Homo sapiens: one gene and its partner. The protein of the gene in region 2 interacts with the protein of the main gene of each other region in a pairwise test. Each region holds a gene or a part of one and is shown on either strand. Other genes may lie near its edges.

Region 1 (8,066 bases), on a different chromosome or scaffold from region 2:
ATTTTTTAGCTTCAGTATTTCCTGAGGTGTCAAGAATCCATACTCAGAAAAAAAGTGGCCACTATTAATTAAATGCCATAAGCTGAGAAAAGGGGGAATGTGGCCCTTCCCCCACCCAGAGGCCTTATGCAAGCCACATTTTTGAGCCTCAGTGTGTTCATCCGTAAAATGGGGCTAATACTCTCCTACCTCACAGGACCCTCTTAATAAATGCTATGATATCTGGCGGGGGAGGGGGGAGGTTCTGGGGGAAGAAAACCTGCCCTGTAAGGTCATACAAACATATTATTATTCTAGCAAGCTGTTAATCACTGATGACACTGTGCCCTAGAATGTGTTACAAAATTGCTGCCTCTGAGCATCCATTATCCAGGACAGATACTTGACACAGATGAGGTGATCTGTGTGTAAATCGAATCCTGTGTCAAACACTCAGGAGTTTCCCCAGACAACCTGAGCGTGTCCTGGCCATCCTCTAGCGTCTGTTCGGTGCATTCTGTTCACGTATAATTGGGTTTTCTTGAAAGCCAGGCCATCTCCTCGCGCAGCCCGAGCCTGCTAGGAGCCTGGATTCCTGAGGTTTTCAGCCCAGATCGGGCCCTGGGCAGGAGGAACTGGGAACGGACAGCCGGCGGCCCCTCCCTGCGCTCTGGGCGGCTCCTTCCTCTCGGCCCTGGCTCCAGCAGCGGCGGCGCTCTCTCGCGCTGTGTCACTTTCGCCCTACGGAGGCTCTAGCCGCGGCCGAGCCGGCGGCTCCAGCGGCTTCCTCCTTGGTCGCGCGGGCCCCTGGACTGGGGGATAATCCTCGGGCCGCAGAGACACAGCGCCGGGCGGGCGGCGGCCTGGGCCGGGCTGGGGCGCGCTGGGCTTGGGCTCCCACTGTCCCCAGACTGAAGAGCCGGGGCTGCGGTTGGCAGTCGCTGACTCTCTCCCCGGTCTGCGAAGGCAGCGGCGGCGAGCGCGGGCACGCACACCCATAGAACGCCTCGGTGCGGGGTCACCCCAGCGTGGACTGGGGGCGGCGCAGCCAAACCAACCCCCCGCGCCGCCGGGTGGACCCCCAGTCTGCCGGGTCACGGGGCGTCGCGGACGCGGAGGGAGGGGCTGTGTGACTCCGGCCGCACAGCGGACCTGGGACTCCTGCACCGAAGACCAGCACACGCGACCCTACGGTCTTCCCCGGCCCACAGCCGCACGGTCCCCTCTCCAAGTAACTCGGGCGCGCGCGCGCGGGGACACACGACCCCGACTTAGACAAGGAGGGGGCTGGCGGGACAGGTCGCGCGGAGGATCGGGGCCCACGCTTGTCCCCACTACGCCGCGGTCTGCGGTCCCCGCCCCCCACACACACCGGAGCCGTGTGTACACACAAACAGCCGGGCGGGGGAGGCGACGCCTCACTCCTCGGGGTGGAGACGCACGCGGCGCCGCCAGTCAGCCCTCCCCTCTACACGCCGCACACCCCGCGGTGCTCACACCCCCCAGCCCCAACCCTGAAAACTCCGCGGAACCAAACAGAGCCAACGCCGCCCAGATAACGGGCTCGGACCACCCCCCTCCCGATTGTCTTTTACCATCAATAGAGAAACACTCGGCTCAGGCGCGCGGTGTCCCGGACGCCCCCTCCGGCCACATCCAGGCACCGGCACGCGGCCCTCCGAGGCCCCAGACCTTCGCCGCAGCCCAAGCCATCGCCCCCCCGCCCGCCCTCCCCCATGACCGGCGCCCGGGACAGTTACCTGCTCGTCGTCCTGATGAACCCGAGCCGGAGCCCACCCCACGGCCTCTCGGGTCACTCGCCACCCAGAGGTGGCTTTTCAGAGCCTGTCAAGTGAACCCCTCTCCGCCGGGCGTATCTATTCCCCAGGCCCGATTGCACCGCAGCGACAGGAATAATAAAAAAAGCCAACAGAACCACAACCGTTGGGAATAACCAAAGGGGAGACCGCAACGGGTCCACCGATTTGGTTTCTTCCTCTGCTCCCATCCCCCGCTCCCCCCGCGGCCCGCGGGCTCACCGGGGACGCAGGGAGGGGGCTGCGCCCTGTCTAGACGACAGCCATCCACAGACATCCCCGAGCCCGCGGGGACGGGCGCGCACACTCACACACGCCCGCTGCCACAGACACAATCAGTCACCGGGGAAGGGAGGGGCGGCGTGGCGACACACTCTCGGGGTCCCTCCCGCAGCCCCGAGTGCCGCAGCCCCCGGCCCCCAAACGCCACCCCGAGACGGGCTCCCTACCTCGGCGGAGCGCGGTCTGAACAGCTGCAAGTTTGGCTGATACTAAACCAACTGCTCGATGCAGCAAATGCGGGCTTCAAAACAAAAGGGAGAGGAATCGCGCTCGCTCTTTTCCTCCTCCCAGGTCGGAACCCGGCACATGACAGCGGCTACACCGCGCAGCTCCAAAGCGAGCCGGGCTCCAGCCGTGCGTCCCCCAAGAGCCCCCCTTGGCGCCGGAGCTCCAGGGCCACGACACCCCGCGGGGCGGGGAACCCGGCAGGGAATGGGACAAACCCAGGGAGGGGGCGACACTGTGGAGTGCAGTTCCCCACCGAGGGGGAGGAGGGGATGGTAGATGGGTGCGGACACCCCGCTGGCCCAGGAGCAGGGATGGGGGGAAGGGGGCTGATTGTTTGGGGCGGTTTTCCCGGATTTATCTATAAGCACGCCCACGTCACGCAGCCCTCCTCCCGGGTCCCCGAATCGATCAGCAAGCTGAGATGACTATAAGAGGAGGACGGGCGAGGAGATGCTCACCTCGGGGTTCCTCTGGCCGCCGCGCCAAGCCCGAGTCGGGGGTGGGGGAAGGGGGCAGGGAAGGGGAAGGGAGGGACGAGGCTCCGGAGAGCCGACTCCTGCCTCGAGTTCGGAGCGTCCCAGCTGCGGAGGGGATCGGGCGCCCCAGCGCACAGACCCAGCAGAGAGGGGAGGGAGGGAGGGAAGGGAAACAGGGAGGGAGGGGCGGGTAGGGGGGAGGGAGTAGAGGAAGGAAAAAAAATGATCCCTGATCTGACACAGGGAAAGAGAATGTAGGAGAGTGACGTTCAGGCCCCGCCCTCCCCTCCGGCCACGTGCAAAGACTTGAAAGGAAAGAGGGCGGCTGGAGGCCTGCTGGGTAATGTAGTTCGCCTTTCTTTTCCAGGATGGCGGGCCCTGGAGAGCAGGGTGGCCCCAGGACGCTCGGGATGTCGCCTTAGCTGCCAAGACAGCCCAGTCTAGCGACGCCAAAACCCGCCGCCCAGCGACCCCACGGCGCTGGCGCAGCCCTGGGTGGGGGCCTCTGCGGTGGGAGAACTGGGGGCTTAGGCGCAGTCCAGGCTTACAGGGAAACGTTGGTTTTAGAGTCCGAAAGGCTTTAAGGATGAGAACGTCCGTGCCGAAAGTGCAAAGTCTGTGCTAATGGCAGATGAAAAGGAGCTTTGTGTATGCACTGGGGGGCCCAAGTGGCGTGATTAATGCTGCACTAAATGCCACCGTCGGTTATTGAGATGCATATGTTATAATTAACATTTGAGCATCTCTGTGTCGGGGGCTGGCTGTTGTAATTAGATACGCACTTTGCAACCAATTAATTTTCCTTCGGCCAAGCTAAGGGCTGGGACGGGGTGGTTGGGAGAATTCAACGTAGTGGATAATTCAGTAATGACTTAACCAGATCACCAATGTTTTGGTTAAAACTGAGCTTGGCACAGAGAGGCCTTCAGGAGAAATACTGAATAAAATACTGTATGCCCCAACAGGGAAGGGGGCTAGAAATTCATTAGAGGAACTGTGTGATGCAGTATAAACTGCTGTAGAAACCCATTTATTCATTAGTTTATATTCACATTTAGTGAGCACTTTCCACAGACCAGGTGTGTCTAGGAATGCCAAAACAGGTAAGACTCACAGTCTCTGCGCTCAAGGAGCTCAGTCCAGTATTAGGGACTACAGTCAATGAAAGTATTATACAAGGGATAAGTCAGCGCTTAACACAAAGTGCTGTGAAATTCCCCCCACCACACAACCTGGAGCAGCCAACTGGATGGAGGGTGGGTGGGGTCTGGGAGAGGGTCAGGAAGACTTCCTGGAGGAAGTGATACTTGAGCAAAGAATTTCTAAGTTTTTTTTTCTTTTTTTTTTTTTTTGGAGACTGAGTCTCTCTTTGTTGCCCTGGCTGGAGTGCAGTGGCGTGATCTTGGCTCACTGCAAGCTCTGCCTCCCTGGTTCATGCCATTCTCCTGCCTCAGCCTCCCAAGTAGCTGGGACTTCAGGCGCCCGCCACCACACCTGGCCAATTTTTTTTTTTTTTTTTTTTTTTTTGTATTTTTAGTAGAGATGGGGTTTCACTGTGTTAGCCAGGATGGTCTCCATCTCCTGACCTCGTGATCCACCACCTGAGCTTCCTAAAGTGCTGTAATTACAGGCTTGAGCCACCGTGCCCGGCAAGAATTTCTAAGATTTTTAACAAAGAGAGAGGAAAGGATAAGCACCTGATTAAGGTTAAAGGGTACAAAGGCTTCAGATGAGAGAAGAGAGCTAATTCGAAAGGTCCCAGGCCTACAATCCCAGCAGTTTTGGAGCCTGAGGAGCTCAAGACCAGCCTGGGCAACATAGCATGATTCCTTCTCTACAAAAAATTTAAAAAATTAGCCATGGAGAGTGGCATGGGCCTTGAAGGATGGGTGGGATTTTGTTTTGTGTGGAGAACTTGTCTCCCGGGCTTGAGACACAGAACAGCATAGACATTCACATCCTATAGAACAACTCATTTGATTCTTGTACCAAAGGCCATGGTGGCTGTCATTCCCTCCCTTCAGGAGGGAGGCAACAGGCCCAGAGAGTTAAGCAACTCATGCCCAGCCATGATTCGGTACAGAGTGGGTACTAGAGGCCAGTTGTCTGGGTGGCAGGCAACCGTCGTCCACTCCAAAGCAACAGGTTTAAGCACACCTGACTCTTCCCGTTGGTTTGTCCCTCTTAGCATTTATGCCTCATTGGCTCAGCAGTGAGTTATTTGTATGCTTTAACATCTGGACAATTTCCTGGGTTTACAAAATATTATATAATAATACTGGAATATACACATTCAGCAAATTCCCATTTACTTACCCTGTTGTCATTGTTGGTTTTTACATATTGTGTGACAGGCATGCCACCTGCAAAGGAAATAAGAATAAAATTGTCTGGGTTTTGGCTTTGCTTTTGCTTAAATCGCACCCTCAGGTGAGGAGAGGCTAGAGGTTGAGCAACATGTGGAACGTGAAGCTTCCACGGAGAGCACACACCTCCGTTTGGGGTATGCACCTAGGGTGAGGGGGCAGTGGGAACCACAGGCTCTGGTGTCAGTGTGACCCCTGGGTTTGAATCCCAGGCATGATACGTCCTGGCTCTGTGACCTTGGGCAGCTTACTTAACATTCATAAGGGATGACCTTGGGCCACTTACTCAACAACTTTTCTTGGCCTTGTGAGAACCAGTGGTGATCGTGGGTTTATGCTGACTGTGTCACATGGAAAGTGCTCAAAGATGGCTGATGCCCTTTCTTGTCCTGAGTCTTTCTGGCCCTCAAAAATGATCCCTGAATTTTTCTTTCTGCAGACTCACACCAGCAGAGCTAGTAGTGCAGGAAGGATTCCTGAGGGTGACACATCTTAATATGTGAAATCAGTTAGGTTTGTCTTCAAGGAACCTGGACCCAATTCTAACCTTCCCCTGCTCCTGGCCTAGCTCTCTTAACCCACATCAGCTAAAGTTCTTCATGCTCCTCTGCTCCCTACCCTGCTGCCCCACCTAATGCTGCCTCCTCTGGGCAGTGCCTGGGGCTTTGCATTGCTGCTGCCTGCCCACCCAAACTTCCCTCCTGTTTTCCACATCCTCAGTGCCTGGCTCTGGGCTCTACCTCCAGTCTAATAAACTGTCATTAACATATAAGATATTCTTCTGATTCTCTCCTCTAACTCTGACACTTTTGTCTTCTTATTGAGCGCTCTCTTCAGTGGCCTCTGATGATGGGCATTTCAGGCTGGAATGGGGATCTTTGAGGGGAAGGCCTTGTAGATGCCTCAGACCAGAGTTCCCCCAGGTGGGAGGCCTGGGGCTTATGTGGCCCGTTGTCTGTTGTTCCTTCTCTGCTCTGGGATTGATTTCATGCCCAACCTGCAGGCTTGGGTCGGAAGAGCTAATGGGTGCAGAGTGAAGGAACTGGAGATTCCTGAAGCAAATGATGCTAGCATTGGTTTAATTGTGACCGATTTTGAGTGGCCAGGAGTTTCCCTGTCTGCCTAGAAATGAAAAGTCAGAATGTTTCTGTTTGTTTTAAGGAGTTGCTTCTCCTCATTCACACTTGCCTAAGATAATAGCAAAAAGTACTAGTTCTCCTTTCTTGCCATGACTTCTCTCCACTCACCCCCGTAGCCATAGCTGTTCCAGGGAAAAGTTACTGGTCAGTCCACACATTGACTGAAGGCCTGGTGGGAGCCTAGGTAGGTGCTGGGGGAGAGAAGCTACCTACCTTCAGGAGCTGAGACCAGGCTGATGCCCAGCAGATAACAGGAAAATGAATGAAGCGCTCCACTGTGTGAGAGTGATGTCAAATGAACTAAGAGTTCCCAGTCGGCTACAAGGATCAGAGAAGGCTTCTGGGAGGAAGGTGGGGCTACATCCACTTGTTACTTCCCACTGGGAGAAGGTCAGCAGTGGCCAAAATTCCTGTTATGCGGTGTTGGCCCAGGAGGCATTGCAGAACTAGTGACTTACTGTGGGAGCTAGAGAGTGGCTTCATCATGCAGTTTGGAGGCCACTGACAGTGCAGAAGGAAGGAAGTTGGTAGTCTAGTGTCTACGCTCTGTTACCGTGGTGTTGGCCTGGAGAGATAACAGCTTGATAGAACCAGGTGAAATTTCACCCATGCCTCATCTCACCTTCCACTACACAACCCCAAAGACCAACACCTGAAAGGCACATGCAAAGTGATCCCCTAAGATTGAAGTCGGTGGTAGAGAAGGGATGTGAATAGAGAACAATGAGCTTGAGAAAAGCAAAAGCAGAATATGAAATAAAGCAATTGAATATTTGTTGGGACAATGCTGTGCCTAAGACATGGCAAGGTACTCTGGGGAACACAGTGTGTGAAACGGGATCCCGGGTCCCACCTGCCCCTCTCCTGCTGTGTGACGTTTCCTGTCTCTGGGCCTCAGTTTCCACACCTGTAAAATGAGAAGGTTGGCCTCAATGATCTCTAAGATCTTCACCACACCTGAAATTCTCCCTTCAAGAATGTTATAATCTCACTGGCAAAAGAAGCAAGAAAATTAAGTAGCCAAAAGGATGAATTTTAAGCTGTTTAATTCCAGCAGAGCAGGAAAGGTTTGTAATATTTGTTAAACAAAGCCCTGAAGTCCATGAGGGAATATAAAATAAGCAGATTTCCTTTTGCAAGATTTAAGGACATGGACTGATTCAATGTCAGCCTGTGAGTCATCAGACATTCCTCAAGTCTCCCAGAGTTCAAGGTCAGACCTCCTAAGTCGGTGGCGTGAGCACCACAGCCTTGTTCATGGTGAAGGCCTGGACAAAGATACACCCCACATCTCTGCAAGAGACAAGTTTCCTTGTTTGCCAGTCTACACTCTAAAAAAAATGGGAGGGGAAGGCAGTGCTGATCACACCACAGGTATACACCCGATCTATGGGATCTTGGGCTAGGCTGGACTTGAGTGGATGTGGCTCCATCAGAGGAACTGAGCCAATCAGAATTCCTCTTGTAAGAATCTGAAGTAAGAGGCTGAGAAACCTCTCTCTGCTCATTGGTGATGGCTGCTCAGGTCAAGGCTTGTGTTTTAGGTGGGTCGAGTGCAAGATAAGTAAGCAGAAGAAGTGAGTGGAGGGGGGAAAGAGGAGGGAGAGGGAAAGAGACATGTTTAGAGTAGCCTCAGTTCCTTACCTTTTCAGTTCTCCCTCACTATGCCTCTCTTGGACTCCATATACCTCTGCGATATCATTTGGATCTGTGTTCCCTCTGAATCTCATGTGGAATTGTAATCCTCAATGTTGGAGGTGGGGCCTGGTGGGACGTGGT
Region 2 (5,946 bases):
CTCCATGAAACCCATCCAGTGAATTCTTAGAGGTCCAAGACCCCTGATTAATAACTGTTGGCTGGGCGCGGTGGCTCACGCCTGTAATCCTGGCACTTTGGGAGGCCAAGGTGGGTGGATCACTTGAGGTCAGGAGTTCAAGACCAGCCTGGCCAACATGGTGAAACCCCCATCTCTACTAAAAATACAAAAATTAGCTGGGTGCGGTGGCGTGCACCTGTAGTCCTAGGAGGCCGAGGCAGGAGAATCGCTTGAACCTGGGAGGCAGAGGTTACAGTGAGCCGAGGTCGTGCCACGGCACTCCAGCCTGGGCAACAGAGTGAGACTCCGTTTCCAAAAAAAAAAAAAAAGAACTGTTGACCTATACTTCTACCAGATTCCCATTCCTCCTGCTGTCAAAGAGTCTGCAGCACCCCGCTTCCCACTTTCCTTCTCACACTTGGGGCTACACCAGTAGAGAGGTTGTATGTGCTTGAGAAGGTGGGAGTCTGCTCTGCCTGTGGCCTACTAAAGAGTCTATACTTCTTTAATTATTGCCCTTGTTTTTAGTATTTCAGGGTTGGTCCACAGGACTCAGGGAAGGAGAAAAAAGTATAAAAATTTCTTTTCTTATTACAAGAATTCCAAGATGTGTCAGAGTTGACCAGAAGCATAGAGAAAACTACATAGTCGAGTACCCACCAGGGGAATGTGGTAGAATTGGCAGTCTGTTGGTCTCTTTGTAATGTCAGATTAAAGAAATCACCTGGAGGCTGACATTGGCCCCTTCCCTTCCCAGGAGGCAGATCTGGCCTAAATACGGAGATGCGTACAAAGAAGACCTAGGATCACAATCGTTCTTAGCCATCAAACTCTTCTTCCAGGTCCTAGAGAAAGTGGCCACTCTATACCAAAGCCAAAGAACTGCAGAGTACTCCTCTTGGTTGGGGTTTCATATTGCTCTTGCAATTCAGTTTCCTCTCATCTTTGCTGTCATTTCGTGGGTACCAACAGCCTTGGCCAGGTGTGAGAAGTGTCCATTACTATTGTTTGCTCTGACTATCTTGCGCAAAGATGCCAAGTAAGGCTGGAGCAAAGGCCTTGGTGATACTCTTGCCTTGGACAGATAAATGGTGGTAGTGTAGCTAGTCCCTCAGTTGCACCTGTTTGTATTCCAAAGGCAGTAAACACAGATGTTCAGAAGCCCTTTATAATCAAGATGTCAAATATCTGAAATTATTCCCCAGCTCTGACAAAACTTGCCTTCTGGGTGTGGAGACAAAACAAGAATTTGTGACTACTGCTGATCACATCTAGAACTGCCTTGAGGCTGGCCATGAAGACTTGAAACCACAATTTTCACTGAGGATCTAAACCTCAGATCACATTTGTTTGGGGCTACTGTGGGGTAAGGGGATATTAAGGATGTAAAAGGGATGTTGCAAATGCTCATGAGACCAGGTTTTGTGGCACGCTAGGGCCACCACTAATTCTCCATGATGACTTCTCCACAGGACTTGCTTAAGCACAGGCACAGGACCCACCAATAATCAGATGTGCACTCTACACAGACTGCACCCACCGAGAACAGGTCACAGTCCTGTGACACAAACCCATATACACAACCGAGAGGTTGGCATTTTGGTCCATGCTTATTTAACAAATTCCCTTCTGCTGTGGGCACTAGGACAGGGGGCTGGCAATACTCAGATGAGCTGTCCCACCCCCAAGTCCAAAGCAGCAGCTCTCAGGCCTCCTCTGCTGCCTCATGCCATTCCAAACATGATGGCTGGGCTTACACACCTATCTTACTGGAAGCCTCCCTCTCTGTGTTCCCTTTCCACCACTATTCCATTACTTCCACAGGAGCTGGAGGCTGCCCCATCCACTCCAAGCCAGAGAACAAGCAGAGGCTGCCACAGGAGATCCTGGGCAAGTAATCAGCCACAGCATCTAGATTAGCATGAAGGAAACACTGGCCAAATTAAAAGATGAAACTTCCAAAAGGTAAATCTCTGTGTATTCATGCCTAATCTTCCAAGGTTGTGTAAATAATTTTTTTCTACCATCCCCCATCATTTGCATACATTTTTGTCAAGTCCAAACATAATTTGAAGTGAGGTAGGTAGTTTCTCTCTACTTGTGCCGTTGTCCTTGGGGTGATGTCGGGGCCTGTGCCCTGAACGCACTTGTCTCCTGTGCAGGGGCAGTGCCAGGGCTGGCATCAGTGGCTGGTGGAGCTTCTCAGTTGGCTATTTTCTCAATCTCGTCCAAATCATCTGTGTCCAATCTTTCTATCTTCTTATCTGGGGGAAAGATACACAGGTCTCTACCCTGCCCAGGAATGTGCCCCATCTTGGGCCACAGCAATCATTCATTCAGCCCCAAAGGCTCCGGGTGCCTAAGCAGGGGGCAGCAGGGCCCCTAGTCACTGACAGCAACAGTCAGAGCCCCACGCCCCGAAGCCCAGTCACAGGGGAGCTGTTCTTGGAGTCCCTGGGTCCTGAAGTCTCCAGGTGTGCTCCCTGAGAACTGCCATATGGTCAGAAAGGAGGGGAGTGTGCTAGGGACAGAGCCTCTCTTGGGGCTACAGAAGATCCTACCCCTTTCACCACCCCGCCCTACTTAGCAAAGGGCGCCAGGCACAGGACCCTCCCCGGGACTCACTAAAATGCTCCTGGATTCTGTTCAGGATGTTCATGCTGTGCTTGCTGTCCACCATGTTCACTGCCAGGCCCCTCTTGCCAAAGCGGCCCGTGCGCCCGATCCGGTGCAGGTAGGTCTCATTGTCAGGATTCCCGTCCTTGTCCACGGGAAGATCAAAGTTGATGACGACAGACACTTGTTCAACATCAATGCCTGCAGGAAGGAGAGTTGGAGGCTGAGAGGACTAAGGACAGGAGGCAAATCAGTCATGTGGTCCATCCATACAATGGAGCATGACTCAGCATTAAGGGAACACGGCACTAAGAGACGTGCATGACATTGAGTGCAGGAAGCCAGATCTGAAAGGCCGTGCAGTATGAGATTCAGATGATGCCCCAAAGCAAAGCTACAGGCATAGATACCAAACTAGCACGGGTCAGGGGGTGGGGTGCAGGGAGAGGTGATGAATGAGTCCCTGAGAGTTGGAGACAGAGAGAAGTAAGGACAGGAGACAAAAATCACTGTTGTCCACAGGTAAGTCAATGCATACCAACTTCGGGTAAAGGGAAAGAATTTGGGGGGCCGAGTGCGGTGGCTCATACCGGTAATCCCAGCACTTTGGGAGGCCGAGGCAGGCAGATCATCTGAGGTCAAGAGTTCAAGACTAGCCTGGCCAACACTGCAAAACCCTATCTGTACTGAAAATACAAAAATTAGCTGGGCTTGGTGGCAGGCGCCTGTAATCCCAGCTACTCGGGAGGCTGAGGCGGGAGAATCACTTAAACCTGAGAGGCGGAGGTTACAGTGAGCTGAGATTGTGCCACTGCACTCCAGCCTGGGCCATTGAGCAAGACTCTGTCTCAAAAAAATAAATAAATACATTTGGGACAGGCCAACTCTGGGAATTGGGTACAAGAGAGGGCACATACAGGCATACAGCAGAACCTGGAGGAAAAGAACAAAACTTTGGCAGGTGCCAACAAAATTATGAAATCAGTCAGTAAGCCTCTGGGAGACACAATGTTCTGGAGATGGGCATCCCTGGAAGAGCAGGCTCTGTTCTCTACCAGTCAGATGCCTGTACATTTCCTTCCACCAAGTCAGGACTCCTGGCTTCTGTGGGAGTTCTTATCACCTGAGGGAAATCCAAACAGTCTCTCCTAGAAAGGAATAGTGTCACCAACCCCACCCATCTCCCTGAGACCATCCGACTTCCCTGTGTACAAGGATTTCTGGCTCTAACTGGGCCTGGGACCCCAAGCCTGGCAGACCAGGTGGGACACGTCCTCTGCTCACCGCGGGCACACACGTTGGTGGTCACCAAAACCTTCTCTTTGCCCTCTCGGAAGCGCTCAATCACTGCAGCCCTCTGTTCCACCATCATCTCCCCACTCAGCAGAGCCACCTGGTGGCCTTCTTTTGAGAGCTCTGCTGCCAGCCAACTAGCTGTTTTGCGAGTCTGTAGTGAAAAGAATTGTTTTTTATGAAGAGACCTGTTAAAAACAAAAGGAAGACAACTGCTAAAAAGTGGCTTGCCACGATTAAAATACATGAAGGCCCTGCTAAATCCAGTTAGGAGGTTAGGCTTAAAATTTCTCAATGAAGCATGGTAGTACACACCTGTAGTCCAAGCTACACACTTGAGCCCAAGTGTTCGAGGCTGGCCTGCACAACATGGCAAGAACCCATCTCAAAAAAAAATTTTTCTTTCAAATAGAATTTTAGTCATATGATTTTTTTCTTTTTAGATAAGTTATGTAACTGCTGTTACTTTTGTATCTAGGAAGAGTGTGGCTTTAGCCAAAGATCTTCATTCCTAAATAGTCTATGTTCTTGCCAGATATGGTGGCTCGTGCCTGTAGTCTTAGGCTTTGGGAGGCTGAGGCTGGAAGATTGCTTGAGGCCAGGAGTTTGAGACCAGCCTGGACAACATAGCAAGACCCCACCTCTACAAAAATAAAAATAAAAATTAGGCTGACATGCATGGGGCACATACCTGTAGCCCTAGTAACAAGAGCCAAGGCTGCAGTGAGCTATGACCATGCCACTGTATTCTGGCCTGAATGATAGAGCAAGACCTTATCTCAAAAACAAACAAACAACATATATATTTTAAAATTTTATTTTAAATTTAAATTTTTTGAGACAGGATCTCATTCTCTTGCCCACTCTGGAGTGCACAGTCACAGCTCACTGCAGTCTCAACCTCCTGGGCTCAATCAATCCTCCCATCTGAGCCTCCCAAGCAGCTGGGACCACAGGCATGCACCACCACGCCTGGCTAATTTTTAAAATTTTTGTAGAGATGGGGTCTTGCTATGTTGTGCAAGCTGGTCTTGAACTCCTGGGCTCAAGAAGATCCCCCCACCTCAGCCTCTCAAAAGGCTGGGATTACAGGCGTGAGCCACTGTGCCCAGCCATATATATATTTTTAATGATGAGGTCTCACTATGTTGCCCATGCTGGTCTGAACTCCTGGGCTCAAGCGATCCTCCAACCTCAGCCTCTTGAGTAGCTGGGACTACAGGTACTTGCCCAGCTTATACTCTTTTTTTGTTGTTGGTTTTTTGTTTGTTTGTTTGTTTTTGTATTGAGACAGAGTTTCGCTCTTGTTACCCAGGCTGGAGTGCAATGGAGCAATCACAGCTCACTGCAACCTCCACCTCCCGGGTTCAAGCGATTCTCCTGCTTCAGCCTCCTGAGTAGCTGGGATTACAGGTGCACACCACCACGCACGGCTAATTTTTTGTATTTTTAGTAGAGATGGGGTTTCACCATGTTGGCCAGGCTGGTCTTGGTCTCCTGACCTCAGGTGATCCACCCGCCTTGGCCTCCCAAAGTGCAGGGATTACAGGCATGAGCCACCGTGCCAGCCGCCCAGCTTATATTCTTAAAAATCTAAAAATTATTTCATTGGCTGTTACTTGGGGTTTTCTCCAAGTAATCACTAAGAAGTGGAATCAAAGTCTCCCTCTTACGACTCACTAAAACCTTAGGAGAACAAACCACTTCGTTTCTTCCCATGGCACCCAGGGGCATCCAGTCCTCCTGAGCCCTGTGGGGAGCTGGCTGAGAGGGAAGGGCCAGGCCTGCCACTGCCACTGCTACTCACATGGCAGAAGATCATGGCTTGAGCAATGGTGATGGCCCCGTAGAGGTTACACAAGGCCTGGAACTTCTCGTCTCTGCTGCTGCACAGGACATAGTACTGCTTGATGGTGTCCAGGGTCTCTTCCTCACGCTTCAGTTTGATAACGTTTGGGTCTGGGACCACTTTCTGGGCAAACTTCCACACAGAGTCTTCAAAGGTGGCGGAGAAAA

Evidence for each region. Proteins that work in one complex are often made in the same cells at the same time.
Region 1: the proteins of DDX19B (region 2) and CTIF interact in binary tests that used the Homo sapiens proteins (3 or more experiments, as listed by UniProt).

The regions. Positions count from the first base shown.
Region 1 is NC_000018.10:48,534,011-48,542,076, reverse strand, and holds the start of CTIF (CBP80/20-dependent translation initiation factor), read right to left. Parts: upstream 3,047-8,066; 5' UTR 2,765-3,046; intron 2,390-2,764; exon of another isoform or gene 2,246-2,389; intron 2,075-2,245; exon of another isoform or gene 1,740-2,074; intron 1-1,739. UniProt on the Homo sapiens protein: Specifically required for the pioneer round of mRNA translation mediated by the cap-binding complex (CBC), that takes place during or right after mRNA export via the nuclear pore complex (NPC).
Region 2 is NC_000016.10:70,329,860-70,335,805, reverse strand, and holds the end of DDX19B (ATP-dependent RNA helicase DDX19B), read right to left. Parts: coding exon 5,738-5,946; intron 4,085-5,737; coding exon 3,922-4,084; intron 2,839-3,921; coding exon 2,647-2,838; intron 2,286-2,646; coding exon 2,224-2,285; 3' UTR 501-2,223; downstream 1-500. UniProt on the Homo sapiens protein: ATP-dependent RNA helicase involved in mRNA export from the nucleus.